Homo sapiens: one gene and its partners. The protein of the gene in region 1 interacts with the protein of each later gene in a pairwise test. Each region holds a gene or a part of one and is shown in the gene's direction. Other genes may lie near its edges. The genes, in order: CCDC17, N4BP3, MTUS2 and KIAA1328.

Region 1 (8,550 bases):
TCAAAGAGTTCCACATGAAGACAGAGCAGGTATGTTGTAAACCTTCTTCCTAGAGACCAGTTAGTAACCAGGAGAATAAGGAGTCAAGACAGTTCTTGCCCTGAGGGAGCAAGTTTAATGTGAGAGAAAGATCGGGTGGGGGGGGGGGGGATTACCTTAGTAGAAATGTAGTGGGGCCCCTAAATCTGCCTGGGAAATAAGGATCCCCAGTGTTATATACAAAAACCAAGTGTCAGTGATTAGCAGATTCCAAAAAATAGTATGCTCTTTCATCCTAACAGCTCTAACTCCTTATCAGAACCACAAGGCTGTGTTCCAGAGCTATGGTCTGAGCTCTTGGTCTTTAAGGAAGCAGGTTCACCTTCCTCTGCTTCCTGATCTGCACTGTAGTTTCCTGGTCCTCTGGCCAGAGCTAAGAAGCTAAATAGCTTGTGTCAGTTTATCCAGCAGTTGCTTGGATTCTTTCTCTGAATAAAACACTGCTAGATCTTAGGGTGAACAAGACAAATGGGGTTTCTATAAAAATCCTTGAACTTCTGGTGGCCTGTATTTACAGCACAATTGGCCAAGTCCTTAAAAGGGGCATGGCACAAGCTGATGTGAGACCTTGCCACTTAGAACTCTGTTAGAAATAAGGACTTATGGCTGGGCACAGTGGCTCACGCCTGTAATCCCAACACTTTGGGAGGCCGAGGCAGGCAGATGACGAGGTCAGGAGCTCAAGAGCATACTGGCCAATATGGTGAAGCCCCATCTCTACTAAAAATACAAAAATTAACTAGGCGTGGTGGTGTGCGCCTGTAATCCAAGCTACTTGGGAGGCTGAGGCAGGAGAATCGCTTGAACCCAGGAGGCGGAGGATGCAGTGAGCCAAGATTGTGCCATTGCACTCTAGCCTGGGTGACAGAGCGAGATTCCGTCTCAAAAAAATAAATAAATAAAAAGAAATAAGGACTTTCAAGCCCCATCCCAGACATTCTGAATCTGAATCTGCATTTTTGAAAGATGCGTAGATGACTCGTAAATTAAAATTTGAAAAGTACTGGTATAAGAGATCTCAGAGGGTCTCTTAGAAGCACCCCCCGCCCCACATTCTACCTAGAATTGAATTGAGGCCTGGCCTTTCCCAGGGCTTATGGGTCAGTACAGTCATTGATATTTTTTTCTTTTTTCTTTCTCTCCCATGCTAACCATAGCTGAGAAGAAATGGCTTTGGAAAGAATGGCTTCTTGCAGAGCCGCAGTTCCAGTCTGTTCTCCCCTTGGAGAAGCACTTGCAAAGCAGAGTTTGAGGACTCAGACACCGAAACCAGTAGCAGTGAAACATCAGATGACGATGCCTGGAAGTAGGCATATAAATGCTCACAGTTAAATCTGACCCAGTAAACTCTGTGTGTTTAGGGAGTATACAAAAGAAATCGTTCTTTTCCTTTTCTTATGTTGTTGAATACTTCATTCACAAGGGAAATAATCATATCCCAAAGAGAGAGCAATTGGCTTGTTTTGCTTTTGTTATTGTTCTTCCCTGTTATCTGCTTTATAGAGAGAAGTTTGTGTGGTGGGACAGATTTTTTAAACACACTCACACACACACACACATACACACCCAGTATATATGGGGCGATGCACAGGTAGGAGCTGGCAGTGCAGGGAAGAGGAGACACTGGTCTGCAGCAACAGCTTCTACTACCAGCCCTTGGGGCACTCACCCCTGTGATCAAGCAATCATTGTCAATGACAAAGTGACTATTGAAGTTATAATTGTATTAAATTAATGCTAATAATTTGGATATTTTATTTTATTTTTGGCTGCTCGGGTAACTTTAGCCCTTAACCAAGCATATGTGGGTTTTTTTGGTTGTTTTTTTTTGTTTTTTTTTTCTTTTTCCTTTTTGGGTACAGCTGTAAAATATTTGGATATAGGAAATGTTGTGTTATTCTTGCAGCCTTGATATTCAGGGTGGATTGTAAAATATAAATTTTTGTGAGATTTCAAAGATTAAGATTATTTTGATAACATTATTTACAGATTTAAAAGATGTGGTTATCACAAGTCTCGAGGGGGAAACTACTGCATAAAATAACTAACTTGGAATAAATATTTTGCATCAGTTTGGATTGTCTTGTGTAAGAAGTATATTTTCTTTAAAATTAGATGAGTGGATTCTTTTTTAGGGGAAATATTTTTAGAAGTTGGGGGGAAATGTGAATTCAGACACAACTGTTTCTCTATTTTAGCAGATACTTTTTTGATGCAGAAAAACCTGTGCAATAAATTACCAGTAATAAAGTCAGAAACCAAGTTTTTTTTTTTTCCTGAAACTGTTTTTTAGTGCCCATGTATTTACCAGTGTACGTATTTTAAGGGAAGTCTGTTCTGTTTTCCTACTAAATAAGAACTTGGAGTGGGGGTTGGGGGAGAGTTGGACGATGGTAGCTGAATGGCTAGTGAAGGAAGCAGGTTTTTTCATTCAACAAATACTTTTTTTTTTTTTTTGAGACGGAGTCTCACTGTGTCACCCAGGCTGGAGTGCAGTAGCGATCTCAGCTCACTGTAAGCTCCGCCTCCCGGGTTCCCACCATTCTCCTGCCTCAGCCTCCTGAGTAGCTGGGACTACAGGCGCCTGCCACCACGCCTGGCTCATTTTTTGTATTTTTAGTAGAGATGGGGTTTCACCGTGTTTGCCAGGATGGTCTCGATCTCCTGATCTTGTGATCCACCCACCTCGGCCTCCCAAAGTTCTGGGATTACAGGCGTGAGCCACCGCACCCGGCCCATTCAACAAATACTTTCTAAGCCCGTGTTGTATGTCCCAGGCATTATGCAAGGCTCTGAGGATGCAAGGAGTGCCCAGCCCAGTAGGGGAGAGAATAGACAGTGATGTAAGAAAAGGACAGGGGTTCAAGACCAGCCTGGGCAACACAGTGACCTGTCTCTATAAAAAACAAAAACATTAAAATGGTCAGGTCCAGCCAGGCGTGGCTCACGCCTGTAATCCCAGCACTTTGGGAGGCTGAAGCGGGTGAATCACCTGAGGTCAGGAGTTCGAGACCAGCCTGGCTAACATGGTGAAACCCCATCTCCACTGAAAATACAAAAAATTAGCCAGGCATGGTGGCGGGCGCCTGTAGTCCCAGCTACTCGGGAGGCTGAGGCAGGAGATTGGCGTGAACCCAGGAGGCAGAGCTTGCAGTGAGCTGAGATAGCGCCACTGCACTCCAGCCTGGGAGAAAGAGTGAGACTCTGTCTCAAAAAAAAAAAAAAAAAAAAACAACCAGGCATGGCAGCAAGCACCTGTAATCCTAACTATTTAGGAGGCTGAGGCAGGAGAATTGCTTGAGCCCAGGAGGCAGAGGTTGCAGTGAGCCCATACTGCACCATTGCACTCCAGCCTGGGCAACAGAGCAAGACTCTGTCTCAAAAACAGAAACAAAATAGACAGGTCCACGTGGTAGCACACACTTGTAGTCCCAGCTTCTTGGGAGGCTAAGGCAGGAGGATTGCTTGATTCCAAGGCAGTTCAGGGCTACAGTGAGCCATGATGGCACCACTACAATCCAGCCTGGATGACAGTCCTGCTCCCGCCTCTTCGGCCTAGAGCAGGAGATTAGAGAACTACAAGCTGTCTCTTGAGGGAAAAAAAAAAAAAATGGTAGTAGTATTTCTACTGAATGCCTATCACTGTTGCACCATTGTAAAGTCAACCAGTCAAAAGTCTTAACCATTGAAAATTGGGACAAACTTAGTTGTTGAAAAGGAGGTTTTGATTTGGGCTTTGCCATTTACTTGTTTTCTGAGAACATATTTCTAAAAATGTACTCTTTATGTCAGTTGGAATTAAGCTGAACTGAGATGACATACTTTGAACACTTTGTAACTTGCTGCTGGTGGGTCATACCTTGGCTTTAGGTACTGAGTAGGGAAATGTCTTAAGTCCCTGTCTTGTTTAGAAAAGGGAGTTTCGGCCAGGCATGGTGGCTCACACCTGTAATCCCAGCACTTTGGGAGGCCGAGGCGGGGGAATCACGAGGTCAGGAGATCGAGACCATCCTGGCTAACACTGTGAAACCCCGTCTCTACTAAAAATACAAAAAATTAGCCAGGCATAAGGCTGGGCGCAGTGGCTCACGCCTGTAATCTCAGCACTTTGGCACGCCGAGGCGGGCGGATCACAAGGTCAGGAGATCAAGACCATCCTGGCTGACACGGTGAAACCCCATCTCTACTAAAAATACAAAAAAAATTAGCCGGGCACAGTGGTGGGCACCTGTAGTCTCAGCTACTCGGGAGGCTGAGGCAGGAGAATGGCTTGAACCCGGAAGGCGGAGCTTGCAGTGAGCCCAGATAGTGCCACTGCACTTCGGCCTGGGCGAAAGAGCGAGACTCCGTCTAAAAAAAAAAAAAAAAAAAAGCCGGGTGTGGTGGCAGGTGCCTGTAGTCCCAGCTACTGGGGAGGCTGAGGCAGGAGAATGGTGTCAACCTGGGAGGCAGAGCTTGCAGTGAGCCGAGATCGTGCCATTGCACTGTAGCCTGGGCAACAGAGCGAGACTGTCTCAAAAAAAGAAGAGAAAAGGGTGTTTCTTGGCCGGGCGCAGTGCCTTACGCCTGTAATCCCAGCACTTTGGGAGGCCAAGGCGGGCAGATCACGAGGTCAGGAGATCAAGACCATCCTGGCTAACATGGTGAAACCCCGTCTCTACTAAAAAATACAAAAAATGAGCCAAGCGTGGTGGTGGGCACCTGTAGTCTCAGCTACTTGGGAGGCTGAGGCAGGAGAATGGCGTGAACCCAGGAGGCAGAGCTCATTGCAGTGAGCTGAGATCGCGCCACTGCACTTCGGCCTGGGCGACAGCGAGACTCCATCTCAAAAAGAAAAAAAAAAAAGTAAAGAGGGTTTCTTAAGAAATATGCGGTCACCTCAGAGCTCCTCCATATATTTTGGGAGTGGGAGTGGAGTGAAGAATTTCACCAACAGTTCAGGGTCTTTCTGGCTTCTGGCCAATCTTGGGAGAGAGAAGGGGTTTTTTTCTGGACTTGATTCCCTCATCTGATAGATTCATTCTGTTCGCCCACAGCTTTCATTTCTTGGGCTGTGCTGATTATCTTCGTCTACAGCTGAAAAATGAGGAATCAGGGAATGGGAGTTAGGGAGACTGCTATCCCTGGTGCGACATGGTTTCCAGGCAGAATGCTGGAAAGGTCAGAGTGCCTCCTTTGCCAGGTAGTTCTCTGGATTGGAGAATGGTACAAACTGTTACATCCACTTGGGAGTACAGCAATGAAAAAGATGACACTTGCCTTTTAGAGGCTATTAAATGACCAATGATGTAGTAAGTGATAAGGGCCCAGCCTAGTCTAGGAGGCAGCTGCTTTTTCCTCTTTATTAATAGTCAGGGAAACCAAGCTACAATTAGAGACTTGCCCACGTTCAGACTTTGTAACACTTTTTCAAGCCAGTGGCTCCTCCCAAACGGCCGAGGTTTCCCCACCCATTCTCCTGACCTGCCCAGCCCTGTGGTTGCTGTCCAGGGAGCTAAGGCTCTCCCCAAACAAACTTGAAGATCTCACAGACCTAATAGACACGGCCTTTCCTCTCTGCCTCTGGCTTTATGTCTCTTTCATCCTCCTCTGCCTTTCCCCTGCCCTTGATCCCTTCTGCAGGTCTTGGCTGGTTTCAGGAAACGGGTCCCATCCCATGGACTCCCACTCTGGGGAGCCTGCGCTCCTGCCCTGTGGGACCTGTGACATGGTTTTCCGCTCCTCAGCTCTGTTAGCCACCCATACTCAGCGCTTCTGCATTGGCCACCCGACCCAAGAGATGACATTTGGAGCACAGGCATCAGTTGCCACTGAACCCCAGCGGGCCGCGGTAAGGGCCTCCATGGCCATGGGTGGGGATTCAAAGGAGCCAGGACCTTTATGATTCCTCATCCTACTACACCCTATCCCCAGGTTGTGCCACAAGAACACCAGGGCGTGCCACAAGAACCCCAGGGCCTCCCAGACCAGCAGGCCAGTAGATCTGCTCTAAAGAGGTTAACAGAGGAGGTAGAGCTACCTACCTTCCCCCAGGGCTCAAAACGTTGAGCGTCTTCCCCAAACCTGTAGATCATACTTGGGACAGATTCTGCCCACGCAGAGATCGCGGATCGCTGTTACCTCCAGGTGCAGTGGCTGCGGCTATCCCTACAGGAAATGCGGCCCTGGATAACAGAGGTCCCCAGGGTGTTCGCGGGGCCCTGGACACGTTCCGAGGCGCGGCCTCAGAGTCCCATGTCCGAGGCGGTGGGAAGCCCCAGCGAGCGGCTGCGGGCGCTGTTCAGGACTCGCGCGAGGCGCGTGGCGGAGATGGAAGCGCAGAGCCGGGCCCTGCAGCTACGCGGCGAGGGTGAAGGAGATGGGGGACGGGGACCAAGGACCTCCTCTGCCCTCGCCGTTTGGCTTAAGCTTGCTCGGGCCGGTTCTGACTCGGCCCGCATTCCCTCAGAACTGAGCCGACGCCTCCAAGTTGTGGCCTGTACGCGGGGCGGGATGTCCCGCCTCTTCGGCCTGGAGCAGGAGATTCGAGAACTACAAGCTGAGGCCGGGAGGACGCGGGGAGCTCTAGAGGTGTTGGGGGCCCGCATTCAGGAGCTGCAGGCGGAGCCAGGGTGAGACCCGACTAAGCGGATCCCCGGAACATGCGGCTCCGGGGTGGGAGGGGCGGGCTGGCTGCAGCCCCGGGGCCTCTGATGCGTTACCGTCTCCCTGCGCGTCGCCTGCCACCCCAGGAACCCGCTGAGCTCCCGGCGAGAGGCAGAACTTTATTCTCCAGTGCAAAAGGCCAACCCGGGAACTCTGGCTGCCGAAATCCGGTGAGAGCCGGGGCCGGAGATGGGCATAGGGCGAAGCGCTGAGCAGTTCTGGAAAGACGGCCTTCCTGTTCCCCACTCCCTAGGGCGCTGCGGGAGGCCTACATTCGAGACGGGGGCCGGGACCCCGGCGTGCTGGGCCAGATATGGCAGTTGCAGGTGGAGGCGTCTGCACTGGAGCTGCAGCGGTCGCAGACCCGCAGAGGTGAACAGGAGGGCCTCTCGCCAGCGGTGGTCAGTCCTGGGAGGAGAAAAGAACTCGAGGGAGGGCCTGTGGCTGTGGATGGCATGTGAGCTGACAAGTCCAGCCTTATCCGAAGAGCCTTAGCGCTGGAGAGCTGCTCACAGCCGGACGCGGCCAGTCACCAGAGGTCAAAGGTGACAGGTCACACTTGTTCATCGCAGGAAGGGCAGGTGCCACCTCAGGGGAGCTTCCAGTAGTGGAGGCTGAAAACCGGCGCTTGGAGGCAGAAATCTTGGCCTTGCAAATGCAGAGGGGTCGGGCACCCTTGGGTCAGTGAGCACCCCAACCCTATCCCATCCCACTTATCTCTCCCCAGCAGGCCTGGCTCAGGCAGACAGTGCATGGGGAACAAGACCCGTGTTTGTGACTCCCCTAGTTCATGTCTGCACGTGTGTATCCCTGTATCCACAGGGCTCCGCCAACCCATTTGTGGGCCCAACTCTTGGGGGAGGGGTATCTCAGCTAATTACCTGCTTTGTCCAACTTAGGGGCACCCTAACTCTTCTGCTCCTAGGGCCCCAGGATCTGCGACTCCTGGGGGATGCCAGCCTACAACCGAAGGGGAGGAGAGATCCCCCACTCCTCCCGCCACCGGTGGCACCACCGCTGCCACCACTTCCAGGCTTCTCGGAGGTTCAGTTCTTGGGTGGGGCAAAGGCTGTGAGGACACGGGGTGGGTTGGGGGAACAGGTTGGAGGCAGCTCTGCTCTGAGCAGTTGGGGGAACATGAGCAGCTACAAGGCTTTCTGGAGGAGTCAGCTCTCTTCCCCACAGCCACAGCTTCCTGGAACAATGACCAGAAACCTGGGCCTGGACTCACACTTCCTCCTGCCCACATCGGACATGCTGGGCCCTGCACCCTATGATCCTGGGTGAGGCCCGTGCCACCTTCGACAGCCTCTGTGACTTGGCCAGCACTGCTGGTTAAGGGAGCCCACTAGGACCAGATAGGGTTAGGGACCTGCCTGAGAGGAGGGAGGTTGAAAGGAGTTGGGTATTTCTGTGCTAAGACTTGTGTTCCCCAGGGCTGGCCTGGTCATTTTCTATGATTTCCTGCGGGGCCTTGAGGCTTCCTGGATTTGGGTGCAACTAAGGACTGGCTTGGCACGCGATGGACGGGATACAGGAAGGACCACAGCGTTGCCCCCAGCCCTTTGCCTGCCCCCACCTCCTGCTCCCGGGCCCATGGGCAACTGTGCCATCCTTGCCAGCAGGCAGCCTGTGCCCAGGTCAGTAGGTGGGGATCATGACTCTGGTACTCTGCCACAGTTGAGGCTTATCCACCATTCTGCTAAGTTTTCTCATCTGTATACAGAGGCCGCTGGCTCTAAAGGGCTAAGTCCTAGAAAGGGACTGTAGCTCTGGCTTCCGACACTGCTTTTTGGTTATTCTACAGACTACCACCCTCATCATCAGTATCTTTGGTCTGTGAGCTGCAGGTCTGGCAGGGGCTAG
Region 2 (8,316 bases), on another chromosome or scaffold:
GCTGTCCTCCCTCCCTCCTCCCCCACCAAATCCCCTCCGCCTGCACAGCTGCCCTGCCCAGCTGCCCTGCCCGGAGCAGGCAATCCCTGGGCTTCCAAGCAACAGGAAGGAAGGAATGTATGTGTTGGGGGAGGGGGTGGAGGTAGGATGGACCCCTTTAGGAAAAGAGACTGTCCCCACTCTGTGACATACGCAGGGAGGAGTGTCCTGAAAGCTGGGGGCCCCCGCCCTGCTGGGGGAGCTGATAATCCAGTCAGTCAGCCAGGAGGGGCACAGTGGGGACGGTGGGGGGCCTAAGGAGAGACAAAGGGAAGGGGCTGTCTGCTGCTCCTTCACTAGCCTGGGGGCTGGGAAGGACACTAGGTCATCATGCCACTGGGCTGCTCCTGCTTTGTCAGTGTGTCCTGTGGGTGACCTTGTGCACAGCTGTATGATTGTGTTTGCTGCTGGACGTGACCGTCTGCACCGTGTCCTCTAACATGGGCTCTCTGTGCTGCTGGGTGGGGCTGACATGTGGCACACCGTGGCGTGTGTGGTTGTATGCGCTGTTGCGGCCGGTGGCTACCTCTAGCTCAGGGACTTTCCCTGGACCTGCGATGCCTCGTGGGGAACCTGGGGGTCGGTTATCTCCTCGAGACAGGAAGTGAGCATCTGCCCACCGGAAGCTGAGGCGGTGTGCATTTGGGGTGAGGTGGGCGTATTTGGCACTGCTGCCAACGTCCCCGCCCCCAGGGCCACACAGGGCTTACATTTCATAAGCCCTTTCCCCTCCATCTCTGACTGTCAGTAATCCTTTGAGGAAAGCCGGGCAGGCGGGGTCTTTCCCACTTCATTTTTTTTTCCTTTTTAAAAATAAATAGAGATGGGGTCTCGCTATGTTGCTAAGGGTGGTTTCAAACTCCTGGGGTCAAGTGATCCTCCTGCCTCAGCCTCCCAAAGTGCTGGGATTACAGGTGTGAGCCACCATGCCTGGCCCTTTCCCGCTTCAGAGATGCAGAAACTGAGGCATGGCAAAAGGCGGAGCATTTGTGTCTGGGGTCCCCTGGAGAGAGTGAGGGCAGGCTGGAGAGCAGGTCTCTGCTGTCCCCTCCCCAAGAAGCAGCAACAGGAGTTGAGCGTGCTTGTGGACAAACCACATCTCTGGCTGGATGGGCTTGTCGTGGCAAGGAGGTATCAGATGAGGAGGCAGGATGCTTCCATTCTAATACTTTTGGCTGTAGGGACCAATCCTAGGTCCCACTAGACATTGGGCAGCCATGACCAGCTACGACCTTGGGCAAGTCACTTCACCTTTCTGAGCCCCACTGACCTTTAAGAAGGGTCAATAGCTGGGCACAGTGTCACGCACCTGTGTTTTTAGCTACTCAGGAGGCTGAAGTGGGAAGATGGCTTGATCCTAGGAGTTCGAGGCTGCAGTGGGCCATGGTTGCACTACTGTAGTCCAGCCTGGGTGACAGAGTGAAGAGCAAGACCCTGTCTCAAAAAAAAAAAAAAAAAAAAAGAAGGGACAATAACTCTGTCACAGGACTCAGCAGGACCCGTATGCAGGGCCAAGTCGCTGTAGGAACCCATCCCCTGTGATTCCTTACCTGGATGCATCTCCTATGTAGCCTGCAACGTGCGTTCTCAGGGGCTGGGCTGGGTGGGGTGTGCAAACCCGGATTCGCCCCATCCTGGGTTTGGGGGTTGGTTGGGGGAGAGCTGAGGTCATTTTTGCACAGGGTGAGGTGAGGCTGTGGGGTTGGGGCAGGTCCCCCTCCCGGAGAGCTTTGTCTTCCACAAACACAAAACCTGGAAATGGTTGAGGAAGATGGAACCTCCTAACGACCATTGTTCGGGGGCAGGAGTGGGTGCCCGGAAGCATGGGTGGTAGTAGGGGACCCACAGCTGCAGCTGGCCTGCTGGGCTTCTGTTCGAGAATGGGAGCAGCTGCTCAGGGGTGGGAGGCAGAGAAGGTGGCATTTGTTCACTCGGCCAGACCTTTCTGCACGCCCGCTCCATGCTGGGCACTGGGCTGTGCAGAGGATCCCCAGGGGACTAGGTACCAGCCCTGCCTCCAGAGTGTGTGGCCCAGCACAGGTGGAAGGTGGTCCGTCAGCCTAGTCCCTTGGTGATGTTTGTGTGCCTGGCTGAGCTCGGCTCCAGCCAGCCTGTTGACCCTGGCTGTGGCCCAGGCCCTGAACTGGGTGCTCTGTCATGTTATCCCACCCCATCCTCCCAGCATCCCAGTGATAAGTGTTATTGTCGCCAGGGTGTGTGTGCGGAAGTCCAGGCTCACTGAGGTTAGTGGCTTGGCCGGGGTCACACACCGATTGGTTCCGCCAGGGTTAGGATTTGGGACCCACCCTGCCGGGTGGTGGGCTTTGGAATAAGAGCATATACAGGGGCTGGAGTGAGTCCAGCTGCCCCTTCCCTCCTCCACCCACCACTGCCCAGACGGGAACACCTGTCCCGGAAACTGTGGCCATTGTTCACGTCATCCTTCCTCCTTTTGGGCCCTTCCTGTTTGTATCCCTCCCACTGTAGCCCCCAACCCTCCCCCCCATGCCAGATGTTTCCCTTGGGGAGCTTTGCCCTTTGCAGGAAGAGGGCCTGCAGGGGTTACCCCTCTCCCATGGGAAGGAGGGTCTCACTGGCCTTGGGTCTCTGTGCCTTCTCCCCACCCCACAGATTTGGTGGGGAACATGGCAGGAGGGTAAGCAAGGTCAGGTTCAGCCAGGCTGAGTTTTCTTTTTTTTTTTTTTTTGAGATGGAGTCTCCCTCTGTCGCCCATGCTGGAGTGCAGTGGTGCGATCTCGGCTCACTGCAAGCTCTGCCTCCCAGGTTCATGCCATTCTCCAGCCTCAGCCTCCCGAGTAGCTGGGACTACAGGCGCCCACCACCATGCCCGGCTAGTTTTTGTATTTTTAGTAGAGATGGGGTTTCACAGTGTTAGCCAGGATGGTCTGCGTTTCCTGACCTTGTGATCTGCCTGCCTTAGCCTCCCAAAGTGCTGGGATTACAGGCGTGAGCCACCGCGCCCGGCCAAGTTTGTCTTCCTTAGCCCTGTGCGGGCCCAGTGCTGGGAGGACGGCTCCTGTCCTGCTGCTTCCAGGCCTATCCCCTCCCGGTACTTCTGAATCCCACACAGGCCCCGAGGTGGAGCTGGCCCTTCGGTGCTCGGCTGGGGCACCATTGCTCTTCCTTAGACTCAGTCCAGCAAGTGACAGATGGGCAGGTGGCTTTGGGGCTTGTACTTCTTTCTCTTGCCAGTCTAGGGATCCTGTCCCGGGGTTCTCTCTTGGACCCACATCTGCCTTACCTGGGCCTGGGCAAGGTTGTGGGGAGCTACAGGGAGCAAGTACCTTGTTTTCAGGCCCCAGGGAAGTTGGGCAGCCAGTGCTCACCTGCCCCTAATGGAGCCTCCCAATTCCCAGAAGCAGCTGCCTGTACCCTGTTGAAACTTCATGGCCACAGCCCCAGGCCCTGCTGGCATTGCCATGGGCAGCGTGGGCAGCCTGTTGGAACGGCAGGACTTCTCCCCTGAAGAGCTGCGGGCGGCACTTGCCGGGTCTCGGGGCTCCCGCCAGCCTGATGGGCTCCTCCGGAAGGGCTTGGGCCAGCGTGAGTTCCTCAGCTACCTGCACCTCCCCAAGAAGGACAGCAAGAGCACCAAGAACACCAAGCGGGCCCCTCGGAACGAGCCTGCCGACTATGCCACCCTCTACTACCGGGAACATTCTCGCGCGGGTGACTTCAGCAAGACCTCGCTGCCAGAACGGGGTCGCTTTGACAAGGTGCACCTTTGCCCATGCCCCTTACAAGGTGTGGGGAGGGTGGGGTCTCCTTGGAGACCCTGATGTTGGGATGGGGTGGGGACGGGGCATGCTGAGATACGAAAATCGTGCTATGGGCTGGCCTGAGGTTTGTTCACTGCCTCCTGGTGGCACGTGCCCCGCGGTCTCAAAGAGGATCCCTCAGGGGCTGTGAGAGCATCAGGAGGTAGAGCAGGCAGCTGCCCAGGTCTCACACCTGCCCTCTCTGCCCTCTCTTCCTGGCAGTGCCGCATTCGCCCCTCAGTGTTCAAGCCTACGGCGGGCAACGGGAAAGGCTTCCTATCCATGCAAAGTCTGGCGTCCCACAAAGGCCAGAAGCTGTGGCGCAGCAATGGCAGCCTGCACACGCTGGCCTGCCACCCGCCCCTGAGCCCCGGGCCCCGGGCCAGCCAGGCCCGGGCACAGCTGCTGCACGCCCTCAGCCTAGATGAGGGCGGCCCTGAGCCCGAGCCCAGCCTGTCCGACTCCTCCAGTGGGGGTAGTTTTGGTCGCAGTCCTGGTACTGGCCCTAGCCCCTTCAGCTCCTCCCTTGGCCACCTTAACCACCTCGGGGGCTCCCTGGACCGGGCCTCTCAAGGACCCAAGGAGGCTGGGCCACCAGCTGTGCTGAGCTGCCTGCCCGAGCCACCACCCCCCTACGAGTTCTCCTGCTCCTCTGCCGAGGAAATGGGAGCCGTGCTGCCCGAGACCTGTGAGGAGCTCAAGAGGGGCCTTGGCGATGAGGACGGCTCCAACCCCTTCACGCAGGTGAGGGAGCCCCTGCCCTGGAGTCCTGTTCTGTGCCTCAGCACTGGGGTACAGGCCAGAGAGAGGGGCCCCAGCCAGTTCACCCACGTGGCCGTGGACACAAGAGAGCAAGAAAGGGGGAGCTGGCTTGGCTTCCTTCCTCTGCATCCCAGGTGGTGGGGATGTCATGTCACTGGGGGTCCTTGCCTGGGAGTTGTGTGGGAAGGAGAGAGGCTCCCTGGGAGGGCCATGTGATGGGGACACCTCACCCTGGAGGGCATCCCGGGTTAAAGCGCATGTGTGGCTGGGTCCTGTGGTGTAGGGGCACAGGATATGATCAGTGGCTGGAGTATCAGGTGGAGCTCTGAGTCGCCTCTAGGGGGCAGGGCCACGGTGGATGCATCTCTTCCCCTTGACAGGTGCTGGAGGAGCGCCAGCGGCTGTGGCTGGCTGAGCTGAAGCGCCTGTATGTGGAGCGGCTGCACGAGGTGACCCAGAAGGCTGAGCGCAGCGAGCGCAACCTCCAGCTGCAGCTGTTTATGGCTCAGCAGGAGCAGCGGCGCCTGCGCAAGGAGCTGCGGGCTCAGCAGGGCCTGGCTCCGGAGCCTCGGGCCCCCGGCACCCTCCCAGAGGCTGACCCCAGTGCACGACCAGAGGAGGAAGCCCGATGGGAGGTGAGAGATGACACAGGGCTCCGAGACTCTCCCATCTCCATTGCCGGTCCCTTCTTCTGCCTGCCCCCTCCCAAACCGGCTCCCCACACCCTACTTTGCTTGCGTCCTCCCCATCCCCCAGGTGTGCCAGAAGACAGCAGAGATTAGCCTCTTGAAGCAGCAGCTGCGTGAAGCCCAGGCGGAACTGGCCCAGAAGCTGGCGGAGATCTTCAGTCTGAAGACACAACTTCGGGGCAGCCGGGCACAAGCCCAGGCTCAGGACGCAGAGCTGGTCCGGCTGCGCGAGGCTGTGCGCAGCCTGCAGGAGCAGGCCCCTCGGGAGGAAGCCCCAGGCAGCTGTGAGACTGATGACTGCAAGAGCAGGGGCCTGCTAGGGGAGGCAGGAGGCAGCGAGGCCAGAGACAGTGCTGAGCAGCTGCGGGCTGAGCTGCTGCAGGAGCGACTTCGGGGCCAGGAGCAGGCGCTGCGCTTTGAGCAGGAGCGGCGGACTTGGCAGGAGGAGAAGGAGCGCGTGCTGCGCTACCAGCGGGAGATCCAGGGAGGGTACATGGACATGTACCGCCGCAACCAGGCACTGGAGCAGGAACTGCGGGCACTGCGGGAGCCCCCCACACCCTGGAGTCCCCGGCTCGAGTCCTCCAAGATCTGAGGCCAGCAGAGCGAGCTGACAGCAGCAACACTGTCAGAAGGTGCCCTGAGACGGCCGGCTCAGCCTTCCCTTGCACTGGTTGGGGTGGAACCTGCAGAGGCCAGCCCGGGGCTGGGGAGGCGCAAGGAGAGGAGGGATCCAGTGGGGCCGTGGGCTGGGTAGGGTGCCTTGGCAGGAGCCAGGACAAGGCCCTCCTGGCAGAGGAGCACCTAGGCAGGGCCCAGCCCTGCTTCCTGGAGTGGATGTGGCCCAGAGAAGGAGGCTGGGGGATCACCAGCCCCAAGGTCCCGAAGGGCAGGTCAGAGGGAGAGAGGCTGGAGACCTGGGCTGGGGCCTTCCTCCAGGGAAGGAGGCTGGGGTGGGAACACTGGCCTCCCCCAGAATAAAACCATGTTTTCTACCAGAGGCTCAGAATACGCTGAGCCTGTGACCAGAGGATGATGGATGGTCGGGATTGAGGCTGTTGACCTGGGCAGTAGCTCCTCCCATGGCCAGTGGTCAGTGGGAGGGTGTGCCCTGCGCCTGTCTGCATGGCCACTGGGCATGTGTGTTGGGAGCAGAGGAGTCCTACTCCTTGCCTCAGCCCCACACGGTTCCTTAGCTGCCGTGTGGGCTGAAATTCCTTTCTTTAGCACCAGTGGAGTTTTCAGAAGGAACAACACCAGGGAATGCCAAAAAAACAAAGGGCAAGTCAACCAAGGCATTTTGAGAACATGAAATGTCTTCTTGGTGGGAAGGCTGGGCCCCAGGAGTATCCACAGGCTCAGGCCATGCCCCTCCCCGCACCCACCTCCTGTCTCCCTCCCTCCCTCCATAGGAGTGGGGGGCCCCTAGAAGTGCTCTGCCTCATTCCCTGTTCGTAGGAAGGTGCAGGAGAGGAGGTGGGCAAGCTTATGGGTTTCTTGGTAAAGAGCCTTTACCACAGCAAGGAATGGGAACATTTCCCCATCAGCAACGGGGCTCTAGGGCATTATTAAGTAGGGGTGAAATATGATTGATTTGCATTCTGGAAAGCTCTCCCAGGAGGAAGCATTCCCCACCCCACCTTGCCTCTGTCCTGCGCTGGGCTCCAGGACGGTCAGTCCTCCCGGATCCCTGCTCTCAGCTAAGGCTGGTCCCTAAAACCCACACCTGCCTTTGGTCTCTCAGAGGCCTGGCTTGCCCTCTGGGCCTTTGCTCCCCCGCTGGGTGCCCGGCCTGGAACACAGGTTCTGTCTGGCTGTGTGAGTGGCGTCTCTCCCTTCCTTTGAGGGAAGCTCAGCTTTCTTACGCGCTCATCGTTGGACGGGCTGCCATGCATTGCGTGCTTACTGGGCGCCAGGTGCTGTGCTGGGCCCTTGTGAGTGTGGGGGCACAGGCTGAATTAGATGAGCTCCTGCCGCAGGGGGCCCTGCACACTGATGTCAGCTCACCAGTCTCTTCCCTGACAGGGCAGCTCAGGGAACTTCTGAGAAGTTATCTGCAGAGAGCCCCACCTCACTCCCTTTGGCTACCCTGGCCGTGCCTGGCAGCCCCTCAGGCCCCACAGGTGGGTCCTGGTTGTGAAGTGGAGTTAGTGCACATGGATGTCAGGGGACGGGTGTGAGGCATGAGCTGGGGGGGCCCCCTTTTTCAGGGCAGAGAATGAGGCGTGTGCACTGTCTGCTGTGGGGATGGTGTGTTTATGGCCATGTAAGTGGCAGGTGTGTGTAAAGATGTGCTTGTGGGTGGTGGGTGTGTCTGAGGGGGTGTGTTTGGGAGCCTGGCCTCCAAAAGCCAGTGTCTGGGTTGGAGACAGTGCAGGCCCCTTCTTGGCCCCACCCTCTACCCCATTCCTTCCTGTCAGCCCCAGTCTGTCTTGGCACTGGCCAGGCTTGGGTGGAGCCTGTGTCCCAGACAGATCCCCTAGGCCTATCTGAGACCCATACAGGCCCACACCTGAGCTCCTGTCTGCCTGAGGAGGGAAAGGGGGAGTGGCCAGGTCAGGCAGGCCAGTCGTCTACACACCCCCTTGGTACCCATTCCCATTTCACAAACTCCTCCAAACCCCAAACCCCAAACGGAAATCTCTGGGACAATGGCTCCTCCAGAGGGCCCCTCAGAGCCAGGTGCTGGCCAGATGCCTTGATCACAGCCTCCATGGCCAGGGGCCTGTCAAGCCAGGGGCCCACACACCTGGTGCCAGGGTCCACCTTGGTATACCAGCTCGGCAGAACAGTTCCCCACCCAGCGATTAGGGAGCTGGGCTGGCCAGTACAGCCAGTGGGGAGTGGGTGGGAGGCACCAAAACTTGGCAGCTGTGCCAGAAACCAAAGCCAGGCCCAGATGTAGGGGGAGGGCACGAGAGCTGAACCTGAGCCTGGGGCGTCTCGGAGCTGGATCCCCGTCAGCTCATCCAGGCTGGACAAACCAGTTCCTGGGTCCCCCAGCCGGCTGGGTGGCTCTGGGGCCAACCGACCACAGGTGTCACTGA
Region 3 (5,425 bases), on another chromosome or scaffold:
CACTCAGGCACACTCTCATACACTTACGCACACACTCATATACTCATACAATCCCTCACACCTATTCACATGCCCTGTTTGCACACTCACACGTGCATGCTTTTCTTCACATGTACATGCTTATTCTCACATGTACATTCTCTCACATACATACGCTCTTGCACACATGCATGAATGGACACACAGCCATTGCCCCCATAACTAAGCCCCTAGTGCAGGCATTTTGTTCTCACCTCAGAGGCACATAGGAAAGGCTGTGCTGGGGGCAGCAAGCTCTCTTTGCTCCGGAAGCTGCAAAGGTGCCCTTGTCAGCAGAGCAAGTGCAGACTTTATCCAACAGAGGTGATTTTTCTGGACTTCAGTCTGTCCAGCTTTAAAATGCATATGTACTTATTCCTGTCAGTTCCTCAGAGGTGCTGTCATTCTTCAAAAATGCAACAAAGCAAGCAATTCGGATTCATTTTTTCACCCACCAGCCTTTATCGGCAAACATTAACTGAGCATCTGTTACGTGCCTAGCACCAGCTGGATGCTGGGAGTTCAGCATGCAGAGCCTTGGCCTCTGTCCTCCGGAGCTCCCAGTCTAGCAGGCAGACACAGACCCCTAGAGCAGCATTTCCAGCAGGGGAGGACACCTGCCATCGTGGAGGCACAAGCCTGGGGCAGGGAGGCCAGGAGAAGGCACCCCCAGCTTCCTGGCAGTCTCAGGAAGGCCCGCGGCTCTTCACTGCTATTGTGCTGTTGTCATTGTCAATTGCCAGCTGCGCGGCTGTCTCTCCTTTCGGAGCTTCCGGGCAGCATACCCACTCCAGCTCTCCGCTTCCCTCCTTTCAGTCGCTGGCCTTTGCTCTGTCCAGTGGACAGCCAGTGCCTCCCCTGACCGGGCAGAGGGCCTGTGGGATGATGGGTATTGGCCAGAGAGGCTCTGGGAACAGATGTGTCATTGGGCCAAATGGAAATCATGATTCAACCAAAGTTCTTGGTCACTGGGTCACCCTGGTCCCTGTTCTCCCTGCGGTCATCATGGCCTCCTCCCTTTGCCCTGCACCATTGTCCTGACCTCAGGTTCAGTGTCCACTAGCATGATTGCTACTTATTTGTCATTGTGCCCATGCAGACAGCTGTCGGAGGAAAATGCTAACCTCCAGGAATATGTTGAGAAGGAAACCCAGGAGAAGAAGAGATTGAGCCGAACCAATGAAGAGCTGCTTTGGAAGCTCCAAACTGGGGACCCGACCAGTCCGATTAAACTCTCGCCCACATCTCCCGTTTACCGCGGCTCCTCCTCGGGGCCCTCCTCTCCGGCCAGAGTCAGCACAACACCCAGATGACGCCACTACACGGCCTGCGGGAGCTCCGGCTTCTCGTCCTCCGGTCTCCACCCTGAGGGAGCACCGACCCGGTGCCGCCGGAGCTGGCCCTGTGCGCATGCTCAGTAGCTGCGAATGCATCCTAGGCGCGTCCTCCTCTGATCCCCGTGTAAGACTGCCCTGGTGTCGGCACTTAGGAATGTGTAAATGGTAAAGTCTGATGTGCAAACGTTTTACCATAGTTAGAGCCAAAAGAAAGACACTTGCAATTGTTCTTGAGCAATGAACTTTCACTGCAGAATTTCAGGTTAGTTACAAAAAGCTCAGTTTTCAATATACATTGAATAATCATTGTGTACTGCACCGATATGTGTGTATATTTAGATATACGTATATACACATGCTGCGGTTCTGAATTTCATTTTTTATAACATGAAGTGCTGACATATTTTAGTGAAGGTCAGCAGTTTTCTAACTTGTGCCTAAGAATTATTGGGAAATGAAAATGCATTTCTATCTAGCTTCCCAGGAATATTTCTACCCAAAATAGAAAAAGGAAAAAAAAAAAGATACAGAGAAGAAGCGCCTTTCAACTCACCACCAAGTGGTACTCTCTTTAACACGAACACCAGCTATTTGTGAACGGTAACTGCCTTTGGAACAATCAGCTTCTCAGTCAACATGATGTGAGATCACTATTATTCCATTCGCAAGTTTTAATTATTGATACTCCTGTCATGAGCGGATAAGGGAGAGCAGTGGGAAACCCTAAGGGGGTTTAGCAGTTTTGCAGATGTTACCCATGACAGTGACTCATCTCTGATAGTCTTGTAAACACAAGTTTTGCTTTTTTCCTAAATGGCATCTCAGACTCGGTCATTAAGCTATTGTTGCACCCTCCGGAAAACATGGCAGAGCATGACCTTTGAGTAAGAGTGAGGATGACCTTGCAGATGACTGTGCCCATTCGCGCTCCATCCTCATGAAGGAAATTGCTGCCAAGGTCTGTATTTTGACCAGGCACAGAGGGGGAACATCACTCCAGCTTTCCATGTGGTTCACTCTGATGCGATGCTGTAAATGATCAACTCTTTGAAATAGGACCCTCAGGCCCCCATTTCCTAGCAGCCCCCCTTCAGTTTGGTTCTACAACTCAACCCCTTCACTGCACATTGAGATGGCTCAGGGGTTCTAGCAGGGGCTTCCAGAAAAAAAAAACACCATTTCTGTCCCGGGGGACCAGTTCTGAGCTGTGCTAGATCATCACACGACCACCCAGAAACCCACTTGCACTTCCTGCTGGATGATCAGGCAACGCTGCTGCTGACCGTGCTCCCATCTTAGACCCAGAAGGTTCTCCCAAACAGAGGAGCCCAGTGAAACAGCCAGCCAGGGGGCACCAGCTCCTGGACTGGCATCTGTCTCTAAAATGGTAGAATTAGGATATGAACAGTACTCATGTAGTGGTGTGGAAGATTAGGAGCATGATACACAAAAGGAAGAAGTAGTTTTAACAGATATGGTGATGATGATGATGCCCTTGTTTCCTGTATGTGACAAAGACCCTGCACTTTCTCCCTGAGACCCCCCCAAAATTGTCCTGAGCACAGGCCTGTCTTTGAGCGTGCCCAAGGCGAGAAGAACCATGAGGGGGTCCTGCAGGGGCCGGAGCCATGGAACGGGGAAGAAAACAGCCCGCGGACGGGGTCGGCTTGTCCAGGGCACGCCTGCTCGGCACACGTGTTGCCAACGTGAAGGCAGACATGGTCCCTGGCCCTAGGATGAGTCCACGCTGGGCTTCCGGGCCTCAGGTGCATCTCCAGCCAACCTCCAAGGGTCTTGCTCCTTCTGGGGACGTACACAGTAAATCCACATGGAAACACCACCATTTCTCTTTGCTTTAGTGGCTCTGCATGATACTGTGATATTGAGTTGGGCATTCCATTAGAGTAGATCTTGCCACATTGACTAAATACACAAGTATTTATTCTAGTAGCAGGCACAACCTGCAAACACAAATTCAGTTACAGCTTAGCTGTCCGAATTAGGAACCGCTTACATAGCCGCACCTGCTAAATGCAGTTACACAGCAATACTGACTTCCGTGTGATGCTAGAACGTGGTACAGTGTATTAGGCTGCTGTGGTCAGAGTTGTAGCATCGTTAGCACTAAGTAATTCCTCATTAGGTGGACTTCGGTGAGAGCTTTGCCCTAACCTGCCCTGACCTTGGGTACTTGAGCTAATTTCCACGTGGCCCTGGCTTCGTGGTTTGTTTGTTTTTTTTCTTTTGTTACGGACACCCATCATGTATGGCTCCTCATCTGAGCCATCACCGCTCCCGAAACACATGGGGCGGCAGCTGCTGTGCCTCCTTCTCAATTCTTCCACCCCCCCACACCATCAGAATTCGGATTTCTCTCCACGTGGCGTCTGCCTCTGTCCCCTTCCAGGCTGGAGCGACGTTTCCACGTTCGGATGCTGCAGCCTCTGCACCTGCCTCAGACAGACCCACCAGATACCACCTGTCTCTTCGTGGCATTTGGGAGATGCGTGGGCGGCCTGCCCCCCGACCGCCGCCCCTGCCCACCACATGCTGGGACAAGGTTCTGGCTGGATGTCAGAATGGATGGGGGTGGGGGCAGCCCTGGCCGTGATTAGTTGAATGAATGGGGTCACAACATCCCTTTTCCTGCCCCTACAGTTTGTGTTGCATATTTGTGTTTAAAGCCTATTAAAATAAACTTGAGGGACTTTCTGCGATATCTACTTGATGTAACTGGAGACCTGTCCCTCTCAGGCTGGGGATCCCAGGCAGGGAGGCAAGGGGGGTGGCGTTTGCAGGCTGGACCCCTTTTCTGTGTGTGCCGGGGTTGGGTGATGGTCCGTGAGAGAAGTCTTGTAGAGACCCCCTCTCCCCTGACTCCGCAGGTCCCAGGTCCCTGCGCCCACCCCTCCAGCCTGGGGGCTTGAGCAGCCCCTCCCCTGGACTTGGGAGCTCAGTGCCTCTGCTCTGCAAGGCCGGGTGCGCTGGAGTTGGCTGGAAGGAGGACATAAAAGGTCATTCACTCATTTCAACCTGAAAGTGCTTGCTCCCCCCATCCCGATGGCCTTCAGTTTGGGCTGCAGCCGGTTTAGCCAGCTGGACCTCGAAGTGTCCCACAGGTGTCTGGCACCATCACAAGGGAGACAGCTGGGTTCGCAGGTTCCCTGTGGTGGTTTTGCAGGGTCTGTGGGAGTGGCAGCTATTTCAGCGAGATCAGCAAGTCCCTCCTGAACAAGTAGTGAACAACAGACCCTTTGGAGACACAAATTCACTTCCGGACCTCACAGGGAACACCCCAGGGCCACCTCTGGGTCATCCCAGTATATCGATGGCAATCTAGTTATTAATAATCTATCTATCTGGCCACGTGTCCTAACCTGTTTGTTTCTTTTGGGGTGTCTTGAGCACCCTTCACTTTCATAATGACCCCCTCCCATTGTCCTTACCCCACCTTATGCGGTAAACAAGGCAGCTGGCAGCACCTCCACATAACAAAGGAGCAAATGGGTGGCAGCCACCAACACGAGCAGGAGGTGAGATTAGAGCCAGCTTTCCACTGTCCATGGAGAATGGTGTCCCCTTCCACGGCTCATTTGCAGTAGGCAGAGGAGACTCTGGAAGTCAACTCACTCACTGACCTCCTCTGTGCCAAGGAGCCCTGAGAGCTGGCTCTCCCTTCGTGGGAGACTTGCATCCCCCTAGCAAGAAGGGAGTTACGGAGTTAAGCACAGGTGGAAACCAAATGGTTGGACAGCTTCCCACCTGCGATTGAAGTTGAAGGATGTTCTCAAAGCCATTGCTGCATCAGTGTGTACACTTCGAGCAATGACTCTGGGATTGCACCCTGTCACCTCATCTGTAACCACCAAGTGGTGAGAATCCTGCCCACGTGAGAGTCTGTCAAATGCTTACATACACACACAGATACACACACACTACACACAATCCCGAAGGCTGGTAAGCCATTCTGGTGGTTAAGACAGAGCATGTTAATTCACTTAAATTAAATTTGCTAAATACATTTTTGTTAGCCAGTCTGCATCTTTCAAACCTCTTGCCCCAAACCTCAT
Region 4 (8,316 bases), on another chromosome or scaffold:
CTGTTTTGCACAAGGAACGTTTTAGTACCTCATCTGTAAACAATGAGTGTGTGGTGTTGTCATGTTATGGGTTAAATCTTCCAGCAAAATATGCTCCTTCAGTTTAAGTTGCCTTTGTCCTTCATTACAGTTCCTAGTAATGTCAGAATGAGTTAGTGTTTCAGCAGTACCTAAATTTGACTGCTTAAATGCACTCAAGTGTATTACCATTAGCAATATCATGGACTTGATATTAAAAAATATGAACTGCAAGTGACCTGGTCAAAACATTGCAGTATAATCTCTGCTGTTGAGTTTTCAAATGGAAACAAAGACTGTATGTTGTGGTAAAAATAATATATTAGCCCAGAAAGTCTCTGTGGTTGATAATAATTACATATACATGTATTGCTGGCAAAACTCAGCAGATTAGAGTAGAATGGGCAGTACTGAACTTATTTCCTTCAAATCCTGGAGGTCTGGGATAGAGGTGCATCTTCCTCTCTACCACTTCTGCCTGGGTTTCTAATTACAGTTAGCCCTCTGTATCTGCTGATTCATTCAAATGTGGATGGAAAATATTTGAGAAAAAAAAGAAATAGCACACAAAAAAATACAAATTAAACTGTACAATTTAACTACTATTTATATAGCATGTACATTGTTTTAGGTATTATAAATAATCTAGAAATGACCCACTAGTAGGCCCACTATACATTTGGTATATAATGTGTCTGTTTGACTTCCCCATAAAATATACATTTGTTGGGAAATTCTAGATTTGAAGGAGGTAAATATTTGGGTTCTTAATATAATGAGATGAAAATACATTACAAATTATTAGAAAGGATAGAGGCAATTTCAAATATTGTTATTAAAAATATTGAAGTAGTTTGTTTAGAGTTTTATATATTTGAAAATAAATTTGTCATGGATGTAGCTGAAAGTAAAAGGTTTTGTTGGCCGCTTGCGGTGGCTCACACCTGTAATCCCAGCATTTTGGGAGGCCAAAGCAGGTGGATCACAAGGTCAGGAGTTCAAAACCAGTCTGGCCAACATGATGAAACGGCCGTCTCTACTAAAACTACAAAAAAAATTAGCCAGGTGTGGCGGCGGGCACCTGTAATCCCAGCTACTCGGGAGGCTGAGGCAGAGAATTGCTTGACCTAGGAGGTGGAGGTTGCAGTGAGCTGAGATCAAACCGCTGCACTCCAGCCTGGGTGGCAGAGCGAGACTCTGTCTCAAAAAAAAAAAAAAAAAAAAGTTTTGTTTGCATATTTAGAATCACAGAAATATAACATATAAGGTTGTTGGACAACACCTCATAAAATTAAATCAATACCAATTTTATTCTTTCATAGATGGAGCCAGACATTCTTTTATGTTTGAGGGTACAACACTGAACAAAATAAAACAAAAATCATTACCCTCTTGGTGCCTACATTTTAGTGAGATGAGATCAGGTCATGAATAAGGAAAATATATGTTCAATGATTTTTTTTTTTTTTTTTGAGTCAGAGTCTCGGTCTGTTGCCCAGGCTGGAGTGCAGTGGTGCCATCTCAGCTCACTGCAAGCTCCGCCTTCTGGGTTCACACCATTCTCCTGCCTCAACCTCTGGAGTAGCTGGGACTACAGGCACCCGCCACCATGCCCGGCTAATTTTTTTTTTTTACATTTTTAGTAGAGACAGGGTTTCACCGTGTTAGCCAGGATGATCTCGATTTTCTGACCTCGTGATATGCCCACCTCGGCCTCCCAAAGTGCTGGGATTACAGACGTGAGCCACTGCACCTGGCCTATGTTCAATGATATTGGTGCTGTGGAGAAAAAATAAAGCAGGAAAGAGGCAGATAGTAGCGGGAGGTAGGTAGGTTGTGGGAAGAGAGAGTTTTGCAATTTCAAGTACCTATATGGTTAGGAAGTGAAAGCTTCAATCAGAAGGTGACATGACATGACATATGACATAAGTCCTAAAGTGAGCCATGAAGATATTTGAGGAAAGAGCTTCCTGGGTAGAAGAAATCATACCTGCAGAAGCTATAAGGTAGGAGCTTGCATAGCTTGTTAACAATTATAAGAAAGCCAGGAATGAGTGAGAGGAATAGTAGCAAGTGAGATCAGAGATGTAACAAGTTACAGGGATCAGATCTTGAGCATTGCAGGCTGTTGTTAATACTTTGGCTTTTAATCTAAATTAGAAATGACATAACTATTAAAATGATCATTCTAACCACTGTGTGAAAAAATAGGCTGTTAAGGGAACATGCACAGAAGTGACAGAGAGCAGTTAGGAGCTTATTGCAATAATCCTGGGAGAGGAAAAGTTGAGTTGGATCAAGGTGACAGTTGAAAACAGTGTGTTATAATCATAGCCTTTCTAAATTTCTCCTTTTGAAATTCAAAATAGTTCTTTTTGTCTTAAATTTCTTCTACTTTTTAAATAGTAGGGCTTCTTGGGATATTTTATGAATACACTGTAGAAGAATAAATAATGTCTTTGTGTTTGCATGATTGACTTGCCCTCAGTGTTTGTTCTTCAAAGCTAAAGTCTATCTTGAAATTATTTACTCTTCAGAATTGTCAGTTCCTCAGTAATGACCAAACTGGAGCACTTAAGTTTTTGTTTACAAAAGGAAAGGAACCTAATAGTAGAGTATATATTGCAGGGTAACCCACTTGAGAGTGGATAAAAGTTTCATGGAACAAGACCTTCCAAGATTTTTATAAGATGTGTAGTTGTGAATATATAAAGGTGAACTTTTAGAGAATATTAATTTTGCTACATTTAATTCAATTACTTTGCTTTCTAACTTTGTTTTTAATTCAATTACTTTGCTTTCTAACTTTGTTTTTAAAAGTTAGTTACAAATTCCCAGGTCAAAAGAAATTATGAATTATAAGAGGTATACAGAACAGAAGCAGCATTTGGATGCCGGATAATATTATTGTATTTTCCTTCATGTTCTCCTGCGTAGTTTCTGATGAAGAACAATCAGTAGTATACGTTCCAGGTATGATTTTCTATGTTAAAATTTGGGAAGCTTACTTTGGTCCTTAAATGTTAGAAGAAAATAAAGCTATTAGAACAATGTTGCGGGTATAAATAACTGAATGCAGAGCAGTACATCAAAACCTAAAATTTGTTTTTTTTGAATATTTGTCATAACCCTATTAAGGTTTGAAATACTGGCTTATCTTTGGGATTGGCTGGCCCAATCAGCTTTTAATGAACTTGTAGAACACTTCATGTGGCAAGGGGCAAAAGATTCTTTTCTTATTTTTTCTTTTACAAATGATAGCCAAATTTAATATTTCAAATAAAAGTGTGACTACTGCTTGATACAGGGTATATGTAAGAGGCACTTCAAGTTTAATGGTTGTAACTAGATGGTAGTAAAGCAACTATTGAAGGCACCCTCATTATATAGGGTGAAAAATATCATTGATTTCCCCTAAGTTAACATATATTTGGCATATCGTAATTTATTGGTTTTAATGTGACTTATGAATATTTACAGTACCCTTTACAAATATTTCAGTTAAGCTGGATGTGGTTGCTTGATCCTGTAGTTCCAGCTACTCCAGAGGCTGAGGTGGGAGGATTGCTTGAGCCCAGGAGTTCAAGTCCAGCCTGGATAGACATAGGAAGACCCTGTCTCTTTAAAAAAATAAATATAAAAACAAATTTCAATTCAATCTTTAGTGTATTTCTTTAAAACATATTCTTTTTATGATTCATATATTAAGAGCTTTAAAATTAAGTTTATAAAGTAAGAGAGTTTCCTCCATCAGGTCCCTTAAAGTAGAGGATTCCAAGGAAGGAGTTGATGGGGGAGGGTTTAAGATAATAAGGTATAATTTTGAAATCTTGTTTAATGGAAATCCTTAGGAATTTCTGCTGAAGGAAATGTCAGATCAAGACACAAGCTGATGAGTCCAAAAGCTGATGTTAAACTTAAGACTTCCAGGGTGACTGATGCTTCAATCTCCATGGAGTCCTTAAAAGGCACAGGAGATTCAGTAGATGAACAGGTTAGTATTTTTTTCGTCTTTTTTTTTCCTTGCTCTCCAGTCTTTATGAGTGCTGACCAAAAAGGGTAGAAGAACCTTTGAAAGTATACTAGGTGATCAACAAACATTCTTAAAAGATACAGAGGATTCCAGGATCCTTTGATGATGCCAGGTTTGAGCCTAAATTATCTGGATTACTCAAGGGTTTTGCTCCAAAACATCTGACTTGCTGTAAGCATTAGCCATGATAATGTATTATCTTGATATGTCTCAAAAGAACTACATTCTGATCTGTGTGGCATTGGTAAATCAAACTGATGAGAATTGCTTTTTAATTAGGCATCCTTTTTGATTTTTATTCTTGTGAATTTATTTGATAGATGAACCCTCGTAAAGATGAGGGACAAATCAATGACTAGGCATAGTAATAGTATCGGTGCATTCCTTTGGCACATGTCCTATCTGACCAGTTTATTTTACTTTAATTTTTGTTATATTTTCCCTCTGCAACCAGAGTTGTTCAATACCACTTCACACTCACTAGGATGTCTACACAAAACTTGTATATGAATGTTCTGGAATCTATAACCTGTGGACCAAATCCTTCTGCCTGTTTTATAAATAAAGGTTTTTTGGAATACAGCTGTGCTCATTGTTTTACATAATTGTCTATGGTTGCTTTTGTGTTACAATAGCAGGGTTGCTACAGAGACTGCATGCCCACAAGCTAAAAACATTTACTATCAGACCTTTTATAGAAAACTTTTTTCAGTCTGTGAATTATGTTCTCAAAGATATTTCCAGTGCCTCATTTATTACTACAGGATTTTACTGTGATTGAATCAAAAGGCCTACTTTACGTTACTTGTACCAGTGTACCCACTTCACACTGGGGTGTGAATAGTTGAATTTGCAAGTTCTTATCAAAAAAAGTTAAAAAATGTTTTTTCACATAATGGTTGATTTGTTTTACATTGAACAATAGCCTTCTTTTAGATTAAGTTCATATTTTTGTCCTATTGGCTATAACTTTTGATTGGATTATTTCAGTGGCTTCTTTAGAGATTATAGTATACATCTTTCATTTATCATAGCCTATTATCAAGTGATATTTTCCCACATTACCTATAGTTTAAGGACCTTTCAACACTGTACTTTATTTCTCACCTCCTGACTTTTTTGATATTGTTGTCATACATTTTACTTATGTGCACAGACCCCAAAATACATATTACATTTGCTTTAGTCAACTCTCTTTTTTTTCAAATTGAGATATAATTTGCATATAAAATTCACCTTTTTAAAGTGTACAGTTTATTATTTTGATTTTGTATGTGTTTATATTCACAGAGTTGTGGATCCATCACCACAATCTAGTTTCGAAACATTTTTATCACTCTAGAAAGAAACCCCATACCAATTAGGCACTTCTCATTCCCCAGTCATCTCAGCCCCTAGCAAACACTAATCTGCTTTCAGTCTCTATAGATTTGCTTGTTATTGATGTTGCATATAAAAGGAAATCACATAATATGTGGCCTTTTGTGACTGGCTTCTTTGATTTAGCATAATGATTTCAAGGTTCATCTATTCTGTATCATTACTTCATTCCTTTTTATGTCTGAATATACATTTTGTTTATCCATTTATCAGTCAATGGACATGTTCAACTTTCTAGCTATTATGAATAATTCTTCCATGATCATTCATATACAAGTTTTTGTGTAGACATATATTTTCAGTTCTCTTGTGTATATACCTATAAGTGAATTGCTGTGTCGTGTAGTTTTATGTTTAACCTTTTGACAAAATTCCAAACTGTTTTTTAAAGTGGTTACACCATGTTACATTCGACTAGCAATGTATGAGGATTCAGATTTCTCCACATTCTTGCCAACATTTATGTCCATCTTTTTTGAGGATGGCCACCCTAGTGGGTGTGAAGTGGTAATTCAATGTGATTTTGATTTGCATTTCCTTAATGACTAAATGATGATGAGCATGTTTTTATGTGCTTCTTGGCTATTTGTGTATCTTCGTCAGACAAATATCTAGTCATATCCTTTTTTAACTGAGTTATTTGTCTTAGTACTGTTAAGTTATGAGTTCTTTCTAAATTCCATTTACAAGTCCCTTATCAGATACATTATTTGCTAATATTTTTTCTCATTCTATGCATTGCCTTTTCACTTTTTTATTGGTGTTCTTTGAAGCACAGAAGTTTAAAATTTTGATGAAGTTCAGTTTATCTAGTGTTTTCTTCTGTCTCCTTTGCTTTGGTGTCATATCTGAGAAATTGTTGCCTAATCCAAGGTCACAAATATTTGTGCCTATTTTTTTTCTAAGAATTTTAAAGGTTTTACTCCTACATTTAGTTCTCATTCCATTTTGAGTTAATTTTTGTATATGGGGTGAGGTGGTAGTTTAACTTTATTCCTTTGCATGTAGATATCCAGTTGTCCCAGCACCATTTGTTAAAAAAACTGTCCTTTCCCCTTTGAATTTCTTGGCACCCTTGTCAAATATCTGTTGACCATAAGTGTAAGGGTTTATTTTTGGACTCTCTGTATTCTGTTCCATTGATTTATATTTTTATTTTTGGAATTAGGAAGTATAAGTCCTCCAACTTCTTCTTTTTCAAGATTGTTTTGGCTATTTTGGGTCCCAGTGTTTCCATAGGCATTATAGAATCAGCAAATGTTTTATACTTTTTGATGTTATTAGAAACACAGTTGTTTCTGAATTTCACTGTTGGATTGTTTATTGCTAGTATATAGAAATTCAGTTGATTTGTGAATTGATCTTGTATCCTGCAACTTTATCAAACTATTTCTAATCTAATAGTTCTTTTGTGAATTCCTTACCATTTTCTCTATATAAGATGAAGTTGTCTGTGAATAGAGATAGTTCACATATTCTTATTGGATGCCTTTATTCCATTTTGGATGCATTTTATTTTAATTGCCTTTTAAAGAAATTTTACAAATGCAACAGAAGTCTTTTAAATCTACTCATGTAGTTACCATTTCTGGTGTTTTCATTCTTTCACGTGTATCCAGATTTCCTAAAAGACTTCCTTTAACATTAGTTCAGGTATGCTAGGAAAGAATTTTTTCAGCTCACGTATGTCTGAAAAGTCTTTATTTCTCTTTCCTTTTCAAAAGATATTTTTGCTGGTTATAAAATTCTGAGTTGATAGTTTTATTCATTCAGTGCTTTAAAGATGTTGCTGCACTGTTGCCTGGCTTGTATTGTTTTTAAGAAGTTGGCTGTCATTTTTATTCCTCCTTATTTTTCTGTGTGTATGTGTTTAAATATGGCTGCTTTTAAGATTTTCTTCTTATCACTGGTTTTGAGCAATTTGGTTATAGTATACCCTGGAGTAATTTTTTTTTTTGAGGTGCAGAGTTGCTGTGTCGCCCAGGCTAGAGTGCAGTGGCACGATCTTGGTTTACTGCAACCTCCGCTTCCCAGGTTCAAGTGATTCTCCTACCTCAGCCTCCTGAGTAGCTGGGATTACGGGCGTGCACCGCCACACCCGGCTAATTTTTGTATTTTTAGTAGAGATGGGGTTTCACCATGTTGGTCAGGCTGGTCTCGAACTCCTGACCTCATTATCTGCCCGCCTCGGCCTCCCAAAGTGCTGGGATTACAGGTGTGAGCCACCATGCCCATCCTACCTTGGAGTAATTTTTAAAGTATCTCTTTTGTTTGAGGTTTGTTGAGCTTTTTGGGACTGTGGGTTTATAGTTTTCATCAAATTGGGAAATGTTTCAGCCATTGTTTCTCCAGATATTTTTGTTTCCCTCTCTTTCTAGTGACCTTAGTTGCACAAATACTAGGCCTCTTGAAGTTACCCTCTCAGCTCTCTGATCCTCTGTTCATATTTTTTTCATTAAAAAATTTTTTTGTTTATCCTTGGATAGTTTGTATTGCTGTTGCTATGTCTTCAAATTCATTAACCTTCTGCAATGTCTAATCTGCCACTAATCTCATCCAGTGTGTTTTTCATATGAAACAATGTAGTTTTATCTTTAGAAGTTCAGTTTCAGTCTCTTATTTTTGTTTACATCTTCCATGTCGCTACTTGACATGCTTTCTTCTAGGTTCTTGAACATATGGAACATAGTTATAATAACTGTTTCAATATTCTTGACTATGAATTCTATCATCCAAGTCATTTGTGGATAGGTTTCAATTGAGCAATTTTTCTCCTAATTATAGGCTGTATTTTTCTGCTTCTTTGCCTGCTTGGTTGTCTTTTATTGGATGTCACAAGACAGTATGCATTTTGCCTTTTTGGGTTCTGAGACAGTGATAAATTA

What was found.
Region 2: the proteins of CCDC17 (region 1) and N4BP3 interact in binary tests that used the Homo sapiens proteins (3 or more experiments, as listed by UniProt).
Region 3: the proteins of CCDC17 (region 1) and MTUS2 interact in binary tests that used the Homo sapiens proteins (3 or more experiments, as listed by UniProt).
Region 4: the proteins of CCDC17 (region 1) and KIAA1328 interact in binary tests that used the Homo sapiens proteins (3 or more experiments, as listed by UniProt).

What each region holds. Positions count from the first base shown.
Region 1 is NC_000001.11:45,621,055-45,629,604, reverse strand, and holds the start of CCDC17 (coiled-coil domain-containing protein 17), read left to right. Parts: upstream 1-5,550; 5' UTR 5,551-5,695; coding exon 5,696-5,869; intron 5,870-5,952; coding exon 5,953-6,048; intron 6,049-6,165; coding exon 6,166-6,388; coding exon of another isoform or gene 6,389-6,487; coding exon 6,488-6,650; intron 6,651-6,770; coding exon 6,771-6,854; intron 6,855-6,937; coding exon 6,938-7,056; intron 7,057-7,256; coding exon 7,257-7,364; intron 7,365-7,609; coding exon 7,610-7,728; intron 7,729-7,869; coding exon 7,870-7,967; intron 7,968-8,120; coding exon 8,121-8,324; intron 8,325-8,491; coding exon 8,492-8,550. Other genes in the region: GPBP1L1 (vasculin-like protein 1), read left to right, coding at 1-29, 1,197-1,349.
Region 2 is NC_000005.10:178,116,138-178,124,453, forward strand, and holds part of N4BP3 (NEDD4-binding protein 3), read left to right. Parts: exon of another isoform or gene 1-3,416; 5' UTR 3,417-3,446; coding exon 3,447-3,776; intron 3,777-4,040; coding exon 4,041-4,562; intron 4,563-4,960; coding exon 4,961-5,215; intron 5,216-5,336; coding exon 5,337-5,864; 3' UTR 5,865-8,316.
Region 3 is NC_000013.11:29,501,876-29,507,300, forward strand, and holds the end of MTUS2 (microtubule-associated tumor suppressor candidate 2), read left to right. Parts: intron 1-1,117; coding exon 1,118-1,331; 3' UTR 1,332-4,072; downstream 4,073-5,425. UniProt on the Homo sapiens protein: Binds microtubules. Together with MAPRE1 may target the microtubule depolymerase KIF2C to the plus-end of microtubules. May regulate the dynamics of microtubules at their growing distal tip.
Region 4 is NC_000018.10:36,831,365-36,839,680, forward strand, and holds part of KIAA1328 (protein hinderin), read left to right. Parts: exon of another isoform or gene 1-2,024; intron 2,025-2,838; exon of another isoform or gene 2,839-2,909; coding exon of another isoform or gene 2,910-2,955; coding exon 2,956-2,991; intron 2,992-3,869; coding exon 3,870-4,012; intron 4,013-8,316. UniProt on the Homo sapiens protein: Competes with SMC1 for binding to SMC3. May affect the availability of SMC3 to engage in the formation of multimeric protein complexes.